3 separate regions of the Homo sapiens genome follow, and regions 1 and 2 are each linked to region 3. The links come from fine-mapping of genetic effects on gene expression. A gene starts in region 3. Each other region holds a variant in brackets. All regions are shown on one strand. Distances are from middle to middle.

What was found. PIP is the estimated chance that this variant, and not a neighbour inherited with it, causes the effect.
Region 1: its variant is fine-mapped to the expression of NUDT5 in whole blood (TOPMed, PIP above 0.99).
Region 2: its variant is fine-mapped to the expression of NUDT5 in whole blood (TOPMed, PIP above 0.99).

The regions. Positions count from the first base shown.
Region 1 is chr10:12,263,515-12,268,514 of GRCh38, reverse strand. No RefSeq gene overlaps it. Among named protein-coding and RNA genes, the nearest start is that of CDC123, 70 kb to the right of the region's middle. RefSeq lists enhancers at 3,826-3,925, 3,800-4,338 and silencers at 4,146-4,205, 4,776-4,825. The variant G/A (reference allele first, on the strand shown) is at 2,620.
Region 2 is chr10:12,241,354-12,246,353 of GRCh38, reverse strand. CDC123 (cell division cycle 123) reads right to left here. Exons shown (of 13, transcript NM_006023.3): 11 at 77-205. Among named protein-coding and RNA genes, the nearest start is that of CDC123, 48 kb to the right of the region's middle. The variant TA/A (reference allele first, on the strand shown) is at 2,303.
Region 3 is chr10:12,192,969-12,197,968 of GRCh38, reverse strand. It overlaps NUDT5 (nudix hydrolase 5), which reads left to right and starts at 2,078. Exons shown (of 10, transcript NM_014142.4): 1 at 2,078-2,199. It overlaps CDC123 (cell division cycle 123), which reads right to left and starts at 1,781. Exons shown (of 13, transcript NM_006023.3): 1 at 1,650-1,781. The coding sequence starts at 1,723. RefSeq lists an enhancer at 1,765-2,034.

The DNA.
Region 1 (5,000 bases), 71 kb before region 3:
CACACGCACACACACATTTTAATTGACAGATAATAGCTGTACATATTTACAGGGTAGATAGTGATGTTGCAATATACATAATGTACAGTGATCAGGTCAGGGTAATTCCTATATCCACAATTGCTGGAAAAGGAGGAGAGACCCAAGAGACCAGTCTTTTGGACTTGAGTTTTTGAAAATATATATTTAATTTTAAAAACTTGCAAAACAGGCCAGGCACGGTGGCTCACGCCTGTAATCCCAGCACTTTGGGAGGCCGAGGCTGGCAGATCACCTGAGGTCAGGAGTTAGAGACCACCCTGGCCAACATGGTGAAATCCCATCTCTACTAAAAATACAAAATTAGCTAGGCATGGTGGTGCATGCCTGTAATCGCAGCTACTTGGGAGGCTCAGGCAGGGGAATTGCTTGAACCTCGGAGGCAGAGGTTGCAAGTGAACTGACATCATGCCACTCCACTCCAGCCTGAGCAACAGAGTGAGTGAGACACAATCTAAAAAAAAAAAAAAAAAAAAAAGGCCAGGTGCGGTGGCTTACCCCTGTAATCCTAGCACTTTGGGAGGCCGAGGTGGGCGGATCACAAGGTCAGGAGATTTAGACCATCCTGTGAATGGTGAAAACCCCGTCTCTACTGAAAATACAAAAAAAAAAAAAAAAAAAAAAAAAATTAGCCGGTCCTGGTGGTGGGTGCCCGTAGTCCCAGCTACTCCAGAGGTTGAGGCGGGAGAATGCCGTGAACCTGGGAGGCGGAGCTTGCAGTGAGCTGAGATTGCGCCACCGCACTCCAGCCTGGGAGACAGAGCGAGACTCCGTCTCAAAAAAAAAAAAAAAAGGCTGGGTGTGGTGGCTCATACCTGTAATCCCAGCACTTTGGGAGGCCGAGGCAGGCAGATCACAAGGTCAAGAGATTGAGGCCATCCCGGCTAACAGGGTGAAACCCCGTCTCTACTAAAAATACAAAAATTAGCTGGGCGTGGTGGCACGTGCCTGTAGTCCCAGCTACTCGGGAGGCTGAGGCAGGAGAATCGCTTGAACCCGGGAGGCGGAGGTTACCTTGAGCCAAGATTGCGCCACTGCACTCCAGCCTGGCGACAGAGTGAGACCCCGTCTAAAAAAAAAAAAAGGCAAAACAGATACACAAAAATAGAAAATCTAAATGGTTCTATATTTATTTATTTATTTAAGTCTCTCTCGGTCGCCCAGGCTGGAGTGCAGTGGCGCGATCTCGGCTCACTGCAAGCTCCGCCTCCCGGGTTCACGCCATTCTCCTGCCTCAGCCTCCCGAGTACCTGGGACTACAGGCACCCGCCACCACGCCCGCCTAATTTTTTTGTATTTTTAGTAGAGACGGGGTTTCACTGTGATAGCCAGGATGGTCTCGATCTCCTGACCTCGTGATCCGCTGGCCTCAGCCTCCCAAAGTGCTGGGATTACAGGCGTGACCACCGCGCCAGGCTATATATATATATTTTTTAATCAAATCTATAATAGAGGCCTTTCCTAAAAAGAAAAAAAAAGCCTTTTGAACATATATATTGCAGAATTACATAGGATTACATTTCTACACCAATTATATTGCCATTTAAAAATATTTCTCACTTGGTTACATAAAAATATTATTCTACAACAGTGTAATATGCATTTTTTATTCTGTCTTGAACATCTTTTTATATATTTATTGTATATTTGTGTTTTTTCCTTTATGAATTGCCTGTATAACATCCTTAACCCAATCTTATTTTGTTTAATTTTGAAGTCCTTTTATTTGTATGTTAACTATATTAAGCTTTGATCTGGCATATTTGTTACAAATTTTTTTTTCTATTAGTTTGGCTTTTGATTTGGTAAATGACATTTTAAAACATGCACTTGTTTTTAAATTGTATTTGAAATTTTTAAAAAAGAATAGTCTACCTGAGAAGACCTCTGAGAAATATGATTTTCCATCTCATTACAGCTCCATGACACTGTAGCGTGCCTTACAGATTGGCACCGCTAACAATTATACAGCGAGCTGGTCTACCTCTCAATGCCTCTTGATCATGAGCTCTCAGGAAATGACAGCTCCGGGAATTAATATCCAGAAGACGAGTCTTGGCCGGGCGCGGTGGCTCACACCTGTAATCCCAGCACTTTGGGAGACCGAGGCAGGCGGATCACAAGGTCAGGAGAGCGAGACCACCCTGGCCAACATGGTGAAACGCTGTCTCTACTAAAAATACAAAAATTAGCTAGGTGTGGTGGTGTGTGCCTGTAATTCCAGCTCTTTGGGAGGCTGAGGCAGGAGAATCGCTTGAACTAGGGAGTCGGAGCTTGCAGTGAGCCGAGATCGCACCACTGCACTCCAGCCTGGCGACAGAACGAGACTCTGTCTCAAAAAAAAAAAAAAAAAAAAAAAAAAAAAGCCTCTGGGCCCACCTCTTCTCTTCAGGGCTCCTACAGATAACACATTGGTCCTGGCCACTAAAATGTCCCAATGCCAGCTGAGAGAGGAAGATAAGAACTGGCAGGCCCCCCTTTCCTCTGGAAGTTGTGTCATATTCTGTGAACTTGGCCTCAAGAGGGAGATAAGAACTGGGTAAGGCTCACTTCCCCACGGAGATGGTTTCATGCCCAGTA[G/A]ACACTTGCCCCGAGTCCGGAGAAGCAGTAGGTGCTTTGCAAATATTTACCTAGCTACATGGCAACCGGGCAGTGCTGTCAGAGTTCTGTGTCATTTCTGGGCCACACGCCCCACACCCCATTCTCTCCTCTTGCATTACAAAGGCTACGTCCCTTCCCACAGCTACCTTTCCACAAGTGTTCAAAACCACGTGAAGGTCAGACTCCTTTGATTTCTAAATCATGCCCTTAGCCAAGATTGAACTTCCAATAGAGAAAATTTTAGGTTTGCTTTCATGTGTGAGGTGAAATGACTGTCCCTTTGTCAGAGGCGTTTGAACCAGAGCAACTCCATCTTAAACAGGAGCTGGGTAAAATAAGGCTGAGACCTACTGGGCTGCATTCCCAGATGGTTAAGGCATTCTAAGTCACAGGATAAGATAGGAGATCCGCACAAAACACAGGTCATAAAGACCTTGCTGATAAAACAGGTTGCAGTAAAACAGTGGCCAAAACCAACATGGCGAGGACAGTGTCCTCTGGTGGTCCTCACTGCTACACTCCCACCAGCGCTATGACAGTTTACAAATGCCAAGGCCACATCAGGAATTACCCTGTATGGTCTAAAAAGGGGAGGCATGAATAATCCACCGCTTGTTTAGCGTATCATCCAGAAATAACCATAAAAATGGACAACCAGCAGCCCCCTGCGCTACTCTATCTATGGAGTAGCCATTCTTTTATTTCTCTACTTTCTTAATAAACTTCCTTTCACTTTACTCTATGGACTCGCCCTGAATTCCTTCTTGTGCGAGGGTCTCTTGGGGTCTAGATCGGGACCCCTTTCCGGTAACACCTTAGATTTAAGAGTTCAGGTTCATCCTTCCTTTGTCAGGAATAAGTATCATAAGCAACACAGCCTTTGCTTGTTGCTAGTTCTTTTTTTTTTTTTTTTTTTTTTTTTTTTTTTTTTTGAGATGGAGTCTCGCTCTGTCACCCATGCTGGAGTGTAGTGGTGTGATCTCGGCTCACTGCAACCTCCACCTCCCAGGCTCAAGCGATTCTCCTGCCTCAGCCTCCCCAGTAGCTGGGATTACAGGCGCGAGCCACCGCGCCCGGACACAGCCTCTGCTAGTTCTGCCACTGATCTTCCCACAGGTACATTAAGGAAACTCAGTGTTTGGCGCTTAAACAAATCAACAACAACAAAGCATGGTAGAGAGAAGGCCCAGAGCACCACCCTCCCACGCTGTCCCTCGGGAGCTGAGGGGAAAACACCCAATGCCTTCAGAGACCAGCTGCACTAAACCGCCTTCTCAGAATGAGGGAGGAGCTACTGGCTTGGGGATGTCTCCAGAGCACATTTCTAGAAACACTTGAGAATACGAGAGAAAGAGAATACGAGAGGAAGGCCTAGGTCACTGAAAGCACAGGGAGCAATTTAGGCTTTTGTCTCGGTGTAAATGACATCGTGAGCCGTGCCCCCGCCCCTGCTCGTGGCCTGAGGGCCTGGGGGAGGGCGGGCATCCACCTGGCACTGGCGGCCTCGGCCTTCACCGCCGCACGCGCGGCGCCATCTTGTGGCCCATCCCTTTCCCAGGCTGGAAGCAGCCACAGGCCGATTCTTCCAGCCTTACAAATTCTGTGAAGTACAGTATTTAGACTATTTTTGATTAGTTTAAGAAAACAGCATGGCCAGGCGCGGTGGCTCACGCCTGTAATCCCAGCACTTTGGGAGGCCGAGGCAGGTGGATCACCTGAGGTCAGGAGTTCGAGACCAGCCTGACCAATATGATGAAACCCCATCTCAACTAAAAATACAAAAATTAGCCAGGCGTGGTGGCACACGCCTGTAATCCCAGCTACTCGGGAGGCTAAGGCAGGAGAATCGCTTGAACCCGGGAGGTGGAGGTTGCAGTGAACTGAGATGGCACCACTGCACTCAGCCTGGGCAACAAGAGCGAAACTCTGTCTAAAAGAAAAAAAAGAAAACAGCATTATGCTCAACAAATTAACGCAGAAACGGAAAACCAAATACCGCATATTCTCACTTATTAAGTGGCAGCCAAACATAGGGTACACATGGGCGGAAGGAGGGGAACAAGACACTGGGGACTCCCAGAGGGGAGAGGGAGGGAGAGGGGAAGGCGTGAAAAACGACCTGTTGGTTACTGTGCTCACGACCTGGATGAGGGCTTCAGTCACACCCTAAACCTCAGCATCCCGCAATATACCCTTGTCACAAACCTGCACATGTACTTCCCAATCTAACATAAAGGTGAAATTTTAAAATCAAAAAAGAAAGACAGCTTCAGCTTCCACTTCTTAGTTGAAAAAGAGTCCATGACACATGTTCCATTGGATCTAACAGTTAATAAATATTCACTGCGACTTCCCCCACC
Region 2 (5,000 bases), 48 kb before region 3:
CTATGCGTCTGAAGAACAAGCAGTCAGTCAGTAGACTGGAAAGGTTTACATTGTATCTGTCTTAAAAATGTTGTACCTGCTCTTGAGCGTCAACTTCACTAAAATCGCCGTTTAAGTTGTTCTCAGATATCAGTTCTTCCCAGGTGAACAGCAGTGAATCTGTGACTTCACCAAATGGATTAAAGTCAATGAGCCACACCTTCCCCTGTAGCACAGAGAGAGAAAAAACAAAAACAAACATCTTCTGTACTCTGTCTTCTGAGAAAGAAACACTTTTTTATTCTGAGACAGGGTCTCATGCTGTTGCCCAGGCTGCAGTGCACTGGTGTGATCACGGCTCACTGCAGCCTCGACCTCCTGGGCTCAAAGGATCCTCCTGCCTCAGCCTCCTCAGTACCTGGGACTACAGGCATGCACCACCACATGCAGCTAATTTTTGTATTTTCTTCGAGACAGGGTCTCGCCATGTTGCCCAGGCTGGTCTTGAACTCTTGGGTTCAAGCAATCCCCTCACCTCAGCCTCCCAAAGTGCTGGGATTACAGACATAAGCCACGTCGCCCGGCCAGAAAGATATTCTTCATATTATTCTAATCTTAAAAATCTTCTCACTTATTTCAAAAGATCATCTGTCTATATCCCATCTGAGAAAGGGCCGCCTGTCTGAATAGACAGAGATCTAAAGGGAGGGCCCCCTGTGAATGAAGAGAGAAGGGACCCAGTAAAGCTCTGCCTAAGAGATAACGTTCCAACTCCAGCCTCAAGCCACAGTGGAACTTTAAGTCAAAGATTCCAGCAGGGCCGGGCATGGTGGCTCACACCTGTAATCCCAGCACTTTGGGAGGCTGAGGCGGACAGACCACTTGAGCTTAGGAGTTCAAGACCAGCCTGGGCAACATGGTGAAACCCCATCTCTACAAAAAAATATAAAAATTAGCTGATTGCGGTGGCAGACGCCTGTAGTCCTAGCTACTTAGGGGGCTGAGGTAGGAGGATTGCTTGAGCCCAGGAGGTCAAGGCTACTGTGAGCCGTGATCAAAACACCACACTCCATCTATCCTGGGTGACAAAGCAAGACCGGGTCTCCAAAAAAAAAAGAAAAAAAGATTCCAGCAGGAAAGGGAACTGTCACCCAAAGGCGAAGGGTCTGCGGTCTGACCAAAGCGTCTTCCCGGAGCCTTCAGTGCTCTGTTCAGGGGGAGCCGGACGGAGCCAGGCAGTGCCTGCGACTCCAGAGAGCAGCGCTTCTGACTCGGGAAAGGCTGCTGCCAAGGGTGGATTTTTTTACCATATGCAAGGATGAAGATGCTGGGTTTTTTTCTGTGGTTTTTGTTTGTTTTTTGTTTTTTGTGAGAGTCTCACTCTGTTGCCCAGGATGGAGTACAATGGTGCGATCTCGGCTCACTGCAACCTCCGCCTCCTAGGTTCAAGCGATTCTCCTGCCTCAGCCTCCCGAGTAGCTGGGATTACAGGCATGCGCCAGTATGCTTGGCTAATTTTTGCATTTTTACTAGAGACAGGGTCTTACCATGTTGGCCAGGCTGGTCTCGAACTCCTAACCTCAAATGTCCTCCCACCTTGGCCTCCCCATGAGCCACCGTGCCCAGCCTGAAGATGCTGTTTTCTTTCTATGTGAATGTGGTAAGTGTTCCGTCTGTACAATAGAGCTTGACAGCATATGAAGGGGACGTAAAAAAAAAAAAAAAAGAAAAAAGAAAAAAAAAAAACCACCCCAACCTCTGAAAGAAATGTCTACCTTGTCCTGTTCTGAAACCACAGGTGGGCAATTTGGTGACTCTCCTCAGGGAAAGGTCACCTTTGAGCTGGGGGCACTGTGCTGAGGTAGGGCTGGGGCCTCTGAGCAGAAAACAGCCAGTGCTGACACGCACAGAGCGGGGGCACAGGGGCTGCGCCGCCAGGAATGACGGCCACGGCATCCGATCACGAACACCTATTGACACGAAGTGGATGGATGTTTCCTCGAAAGGTTTATCTTTGCTCCTTTTCACTTTTCTCACTGAAACATTCATATATTTGTGCCATCTGGTTAATAATGAATTTGTTTTTTTCTATAAATGTGTTGCCGCCATGTCCTGAGCGGGTGTGTGTCTGTGAAATTCCAAGCAACAAGACCGCTGAGCCAGCATGCCTAATATCTGGCACTGTTTCTCAGCTGAGCGAGAGCAAACTGTTAAGAAAGATGCAACATCTAATTAGGACTTGCTTCAAATACCAGAACCTCCAGTTAAGTGGCACAGGCCTGTCGCAGGATGTTTTCGCAGGATGTTTTCAGCACAACCCATT[TA/A]GGTAAGTTCCTCATTTTATACAAGCCCCAGGAGAGGCCCTGCAAATTTCTCACCGCTTGAGTTGTTTCCTCACCTCCATTTGGCACCCACTTCTTCATTCCTGGAACTATGTGAAACAGTATCAGCCGTCAAACAACTTCTTGGTAATGATGTCAACTTTATTTTGGAGAATACTGCTAAGATGTCTTCAATATATGTCATGATACAAAATGGACATTTTCTAACCTCCAAATCTTTTCTACTTGACTTTCTTTTTTTTTTTTTTTGAGATGGAGTCTCGCTCTGTCACTCAGGCTGGAGTGCAGTGGTGCGATCTCTGCTCACTACAACCTCCGCCTCCCGAGTTCAAGTGATTCTCCTGCCTCAGCCTCCCAAGTAGCTGGGACTACAGGCGTCCGCCATCACGCCCAGCTAATTTTTTGTATTTTTAGTAGAGACAGGGTTTCACTGTGTCAGGATGGTCTCGATCTCCTGACCTCGTGATCTGCCTGCCTCAGCCTCCCAAAGTGTTGGGATTACAGGCGTGACCCTCTGTGCCCAGCCTCTACTTGGCTTTTTATAGTCAGTAAAACTAACTCATTTTTTTTTAAACAATCACACTTTTAATATAGGAATATGCCACAATGCAAAAAACCAAACCACATTTTTTCCTTTTTTTTTTTTCACTCTTGTTGCCCAGGCAGGAGTGCAATGGTGAGATCTCGGCTCACTGCAACTTCCCCTTCCTGGGTTCATGCAATTCTCCTGCCTCCACCTCCTAAGTAGCTGGGACTACAGGTATGCACCACCACGCCTGGCTAATTTTCTATTTTTGGTAGAGATGGGGTGTCACCATGTTGGTCAGGCTGGTCTCCAATTCTTAAACTCAGGTGATCTGCCCGCCTAGGCCTCCCAAAGTGCTGAGATTACAGGCGTGAGCCACTGTACCCAGCCCAAAACACATTTTTAAATGAAAACAAACCACCACTGTTAATTGGTAGTGTACTCTGTAGCTCAGAAGCTATCCTCTAGTACAAAAAAAAAGAGTTTAAGTAAATTAAAAAAAACCCAGCTGTAACTTCTATAAACTAGGAGGATCAGGATCAGGATTTTATAACTTTTTTTTTTTGAGACAGAGTCTCGCCCTGTTGCCCAGGCTGGAGTACAGTCGCGCGATCTCAGCTCATTGCAACCTCCTCCTCCTGGGCTCAAGTGGTTCTCCTGCCTCAGCCTCCCAAGTAGCTGGGATTACAGGCGCCTGCCACTGTGCCTGACTAACTTTTGTATTTTTAGTAGAGACGGGGTTTCACCATGTTGGCCAGGCTGGTCTTGAGCTCCTGATCTCAGGTGACCTGCCTGCCTCAGCCTCCTAAAGTGCTGAGATTACAGGTGTGAGCCACCACGCCCGGCCATAACATGTTTTCATGTGACATCTCAAGCACAAACAGCCTGAGAAGTTAATTCTGCTTTGAGGCAATCCAATAAGCAAAGAGCAGTCGGACTAACTGTCCTTGTACCAGCTGACTGTCTCCCTGCCCCGATCAAGCTCTAGGGACCAGACACTGTGTTAGGCACTGGGCATGAAGATCGTAACACAAAATCGACTCCTTCCAAGAGCTCAGGCTTGAGCAGAACACACATCTCCACTTCCCCAAAACAGAACCAAAAGCCATCCAACAATGGCAATGTGCAGGGTATTTTGCTTCAAGAGAGGCAAGAACAGGGAACTGTGAGAGCGGAGAGGCACACAGGAGAGCCTGCCTACATGTGCGAGGGAAGGCTGGAAATGCTTCCCAAAGGACCTGGGCACCTGAGGGATAACAGAGATGCCCTGGGAGGAGGGTGGTGTTGGCAGGAAAAGCGGACCACTTAACAAGAACGACGGCTCTCACGTACAGAGGCCACGCCACGACCGCCTGTTGCGGGAATAGGTTATTTTGGCTGGAGTGTGAGATATGTGAGGGCTCCTGAAATACAGCCAGCTATGTAACTCTCAAGGCTTGCTGTTCCAAACAGGATGAAACACATGCTACGACAAGCCGTTTAAAAGTGTAATTGAGATTATGAGAAAGACCGGGAAATCCCCCGGGGCCAGAAACAAGAACCCGAAGAACAGAACTAAGCCTATCAACTCTAGTGCTGTGGGAACCCGTGGGAGGGTCTCCTAGCAGCCTGGCCACAGGAAGGGAATCAGAACTCAGACACAAACTCCAGAAGGCGACAGTCTCAGGAAAGGGAGTGTGAGGAGACAGTTCTAATGACAGGGCAGGACACAATGACTGTTCTTCTCTGAATGAGTTTTGAGGAACATGGTAGAAGCAAATGAAAAACCCAAAATTTTGGATCTTTGGGATTCTCACAAACAAAAGAACAAACAAAAAGAACAAGCTCACTGAAGATGAACTCAAAGTAAATAAATAAACTGATTTACAAAACAAAAAAGAAACAACCAACCCGGATGAGAGTCTGTAAACGCAACAGGCATTAAAGCCCCAAGAACTCTGGAAATCATCATCAATCTGAAGGACAGTATAAAATAAATATATTGATGCTAGACAAAAAGACTAAGGGGGATCCATATCGCATACCAAACACGCAAAGGAACAAAAGCCAAACATCCAATATTGAAATGGAGAACAAGAAGTTACAAAAGAACTGGACAAAAACCATGGGGAAGTATTTTTTAAAATGATGGCTGAAATTCAAAAGCCAGAAAA
Region 3 (5,000 bases):
GAAAAGATTACAGCCTGCTTTCCCGAAGTTAACAGAACATCAATGACTTATAACATGTCTCATTTATTTATGGAAGAAGTTTTTTTTGGCACATTACAAATGGTTTTTTTGCACAAAAAAGAGTATTCATGGGCTACTTCGGTTTTAAAAATAAGTATTTTTATTTATTTTTAAATAAATAAAAGATCACTGCCACTGCACTCCAGCTTGGGCGACAGAGCAAAAACTTCGGTTTTAAAAATAAATATTTGATTTATCAAAGGTACAATTTCACATTCAAAAATCTAGTTCTGGCCGGGCGCGGTGGCTCACACCTGTAATCCCAGCACTTTGGGAGGCCGAGGCGGGCGGATCACGAGGTCAGGCAATCGAGACCATCCTGGCTAACACGGTGAAAACCCCGCCTCTACTAAAAATACAAAAAATTAGCCGGGGGTGGTGGCGGGCGCCTGTAGTCCCAGCTACTCAGGAAGCTGAGGCAGGAGAATGGCGTGAACTCGGGAAGGGAAGCTTGCAGTGAGCCAAGATCGCTGCCACTGCACTCCAGCTTGGGCGACAGAACAAAACTCTGTCTCAAAAAAAAAAAATCTAGTTCTTCAGGCTTTTAATTTCTTCTAACAAATCTTATTACGTTTGAAAATCTACTAAATTTTAAACAATTTCAAGCGAAACTTTGCAACTTAAAAGTCTCTTTAAAATTTTAAATTCTATTCATAAACCACTCAATTTTCTTTCTTAATATGTCTATTTGCTGATTACAAATAAGCCTTCCTAAGTATTTTACTCTTACAAAGCTAACAAGCGAAATTGTTAAGTACAATGAATCTAAGGTTCTACCACACATTCCAATACTATTTAAGAACTTGAAACTTTTCTTATACATTTTAACCATTCTAAGCCAGTTACACATTTTCAAGTACATATCCGATCTTTATTGAATGAAACCATCATATAATGAATCAGCAATTACTGAAATGTTGGCTCAGAAAATCAGTTAAGTGCAAAGCCCAGATTTTCTATCAACGCCTTTAAAAAAACTGAGAGATGAAATTGTATATATTAATACTTGCCGCCTACCTGATGTTTTTAAGTATATATACACTGTGGAATAAATTTAGCTAACAAATGCATTGCCTAACATAGTTATTTTTGTGGTGAGAACACTAACATCCACTCTCCGTTTTTCAAGAATACGTATATCGTCATTAACTATAGCCTCCATGCTGTACGACATATCTGTGAACTTGTTCTCGTATCTAACTGTAATTACGTATCCTTTCACCTTCCCAATCTCCATCCTCTGGGGTGATGGCGAAAAGCAATTAATTCTCCGAGTGCACTTAGGCAGTGATCACCTTGCGCCTGGGGCCATTCTAAAAGTAGTGGTGGTGAACTCCCAAGCCTAAACTAGGTTAATCCACTATTCCTCCCGCCTCCGACCCTCACTGAAAACCACAACTGACCCTCCTAGCCAGCACACTCGCTGGCTCGCAACAGGACGCAGACAATTGCTGATGTACTTCCCTCTCGACACACTCCCTCCCATGCAGTCGCTAGAAGGCCTGCATTTTTTTGGATAGCAGTAAGATTCGCTCAGAAGTCGCAGTTCCCTTTTGCCGGTCGACCGGGCGAACCCCCTCCCATCTCACCTCTTGATGGTAACGCCTCGGAAGAACGGGTACCACGCGGAGAACTGGCAGTGAAGCACATGCTCCTTCTTCATCCTCCAGCTGCCGCCGCTGCTGCCTTTCCCTCTCCTGCCTGCACCCTCCCGGAACTCTGGGCGCCGGCCCCGGAAGTGCCCGCCGAGCTATTTTGGTTCAAGGACTCTTCCGGTCCCTAAAGCAAGAAGGAAGACCGAGAAAAGGAAGCGGAGGAGAATCCCGGGGCATACGCTTGACACACACGCATACAAAAAGAGCTTTAGTCTCGAAAGAGGAATTACCGAAGTGTCGAGAGAGGAATTTTAAGAAGTTTACAACTCCGTCTTCGCCCTAAACGCACGCTGACCCGGAAAGTAATCTCCTGAAGCTAGGTCAAAGGCGGGGGTTCTACGGATGCCGGAAGGAGGGTGCGCGCCCATCCTTTTAGCACCGCGAGAGGCGCCGGTGTTTCGAGCCGTGGCACCGGCATCGGCTGACACTGCTGCCTCCAGCTAGTTATTTCGTCCTCTTCCGTTCTTCACCCCTACACCTTGGAGTAAGTAACCGGGGCAAGCCAGTCACAGCACAAAACCTCTTTGGGGAGGAGAAGAAGAAGGGGAAAGGGACCACATCTGCATGGTGCGTGCAGCCGCGCGGTGTCTCCCAGGCTGCGGCTGGGCACGCGTCCAGGCGCCCAAGAGGGAAACTGGGGATTGGAGGGAAATTGTGGATTGGAGAGGAAGAGCCTGGGCTACTCCGAGTAAAGAAAGCGGGGAACACCACAGCTAAGTGTTAGTTCCAGTGTAAAGATTGCAGCATCTGCAGAGGAGTAGAATGCTTGGTAGAGGGAATACCGCCTGTACGATCCTGGAGGGTTCGACTTTGGGAGGTAAAAGGCGAGAGGTAAATGTGAGAAAGCAGAGGAAAGAGGAGTCTCCTTGGAGCGCTGAATTCGTTTAGTCTGGCCTCGCAAAAGTTGTCAACCTGGAAAAAACGCAGATTTTTATCAGTATTCCTGCGATGATCGAATCATAAGACTGGAAGAATTCGAATCGAACTTGTACTATCGTTTTTTCCTTTGCTTCACTCCTGTCACCCAGCAAAGTTCAGTTTTGTTTGTTTCGTTAAAAGAATGAGAAGTAACTAGCTGCTTTTATTTATTTATTTGAGACGGAGTCTCACTCTGTGCCCAGATTGGAGTGCAGTGGCGCAATCTTGGCTCACTGCAACCTCCGCCTCCTGGGTTTAAGTGATTCTCCTGCCTTAGCTTCTCGAGTAGCTGAGAGCGCGCGCGCGCCACTACGCCGGCTAATTTTTGTGTTTTTAGTAGAGACGGCGTTTCACCATATTTGCCAGGCTGGTCTCGAACTCCTAACCTTAGGTGATCTGCCCGCCTCAGCCTCCCAAAGTGCTGGGTTTACAAGGCGTGAGCCACGGCCCCGGGCCTACCAACCAGCCGCTTTTAACCCCTAGTCGTGTCGCTTACCACACGAGCTTTAGGCTTGCGCGAGGCATCTGCGTCTAAAAGTATCTCCTTAAATGTACATTCTTCCTGGTTCACCTAAGTAGTTTTAAATTAGAAACAGCCCCACCGACTGCAGGCCTCTTCAGAAGGGTGTTCCTTAGAATAATAAACAATTATCTGCGTATTTTGAGTTAGAAACTCTTCCCCCCAGGAATATATACATTGTTTTGGGTTGTGTTTTGTTTTTCTCAAAAATGTTACTGGCTAAGTGGCTAGTTGGAAGCAGTGCTTTAAAGAATACATTTTCAAAGCAGAGGTAAATAGATTATAATGTTGCAGAGTATGTTGGTGGGGATGGACAGTCATGATTCATCATTTATGCCTTGATCCGGAACTATGCAGTCCTTTCTGATTTGAGGGAAAGAAGCAATATTGTATATATGTCTGGAGGGTGGTGCCAGAAAGACTTAATGGCAGACAGGAGCAGTCGCTCAAATAATTGTTTTGATTTGACTTAGAAAGTAAAAAATTGCGCGGAAGGAGATGTTAGCATCGATGGGGGATTTATTTAGGTCAGATGTTTTCTAATGAAGATAGGAATGAATGTACGGAAGAGAATAGATCCCGGGAACATAGCCCTTCTGCGAGGAGCAGTACTTTAACAGCCCAAGAAACATTTGAGCATAGGCCGGGCGCGGTGCCTCATGCCTGTGATCCCAGCACTCTGGGAGGCCGAGGCGGGCGCATCACCTGAGGTCAGGAGTTTGACCAGCCTGTCCAACATGGCGAAACCCCGTCCCTACTAAAATATCAAAAATTAGCCGGGCGTGTTGGCGCATGCCTGTAGTCCCAGCTACTCGGGAGGCTGAGGCAGGAGAATCGCTTGAATCCGGGAGGCGGAGGTTGCGATGAGCCGAGATCGCGCCACTGCACTCCAGCCTGGCAACAGAGCGAGACTCTTTTTTTTCCGTCTCGGGAAAAAAAAAAAAAAGAGTGTAGAGATTAAGGCAGTTGCAAAGCTTTAATATAGAATTGCAGTTGTGTGTAGAAAAGCAGCTAAGTTTGTAAGCTTAAATATATAGATACTACAGGGAAGGAATTTTTATAGATACCTTTTATTCAGGCAGTATACTTTAGAAGTGTGTTCAATGACTTTTTGGTATTACAGTTGGTTTTAAGTAACTTGTTACACATTTAACCAGCATCAAATAAATTGACATTATACATAGGAGATGCTCAAATACTTTGAATGGATACAGCTAAATGAGGGTTCACTGTATTTTAACCACCGTGGTTGTCTTCACTAAGCCATGAAGTCATTGTATTCATCAAGTTTCTCCAATAAAACCTTTCAACAGTGGAAATATTTGCTTTTTCTCCTGCATGCTGAAAAGTCAGTAGTCATGTGATTATGGGGGAGGAGATTTATTGTGCAATTCCTAATGAAGTAATGAAAAAACACATTTCTTTCTCTGAATCCATAGCATGACTAATCATCCTAGATTAAGATTTTCACCTGTCTGCTGGTTTTCTTCATCTGGATGTCTGCTATCACCTCAAACAAGCGTGTACAGATTTGAGCTCTGCATCACCCCTTTTTTCTTCCGATGTCCCAGTCTCCCTTAAAACTGTCTTCGTGGAAATTAAATGTCACTTTGCCACGGCTACCACTCTACTCCAGACCTGTCATCTCCTGCCTGGACTATCTTTACAGTGTCGTTACTATACGTCTGTAACCAATTCACCTTCCCAAGGGTCATTACAGTCAGTTCACTCTTGCTCAACCAGCATTAAATGTGAGGATTTTAAACCACCTGCTAAATGATTCCTGGAGATCACCAAGTAGCATAATTTCAGTAAACGTTAATTACTCCCTGCCCACCCAACTGCCA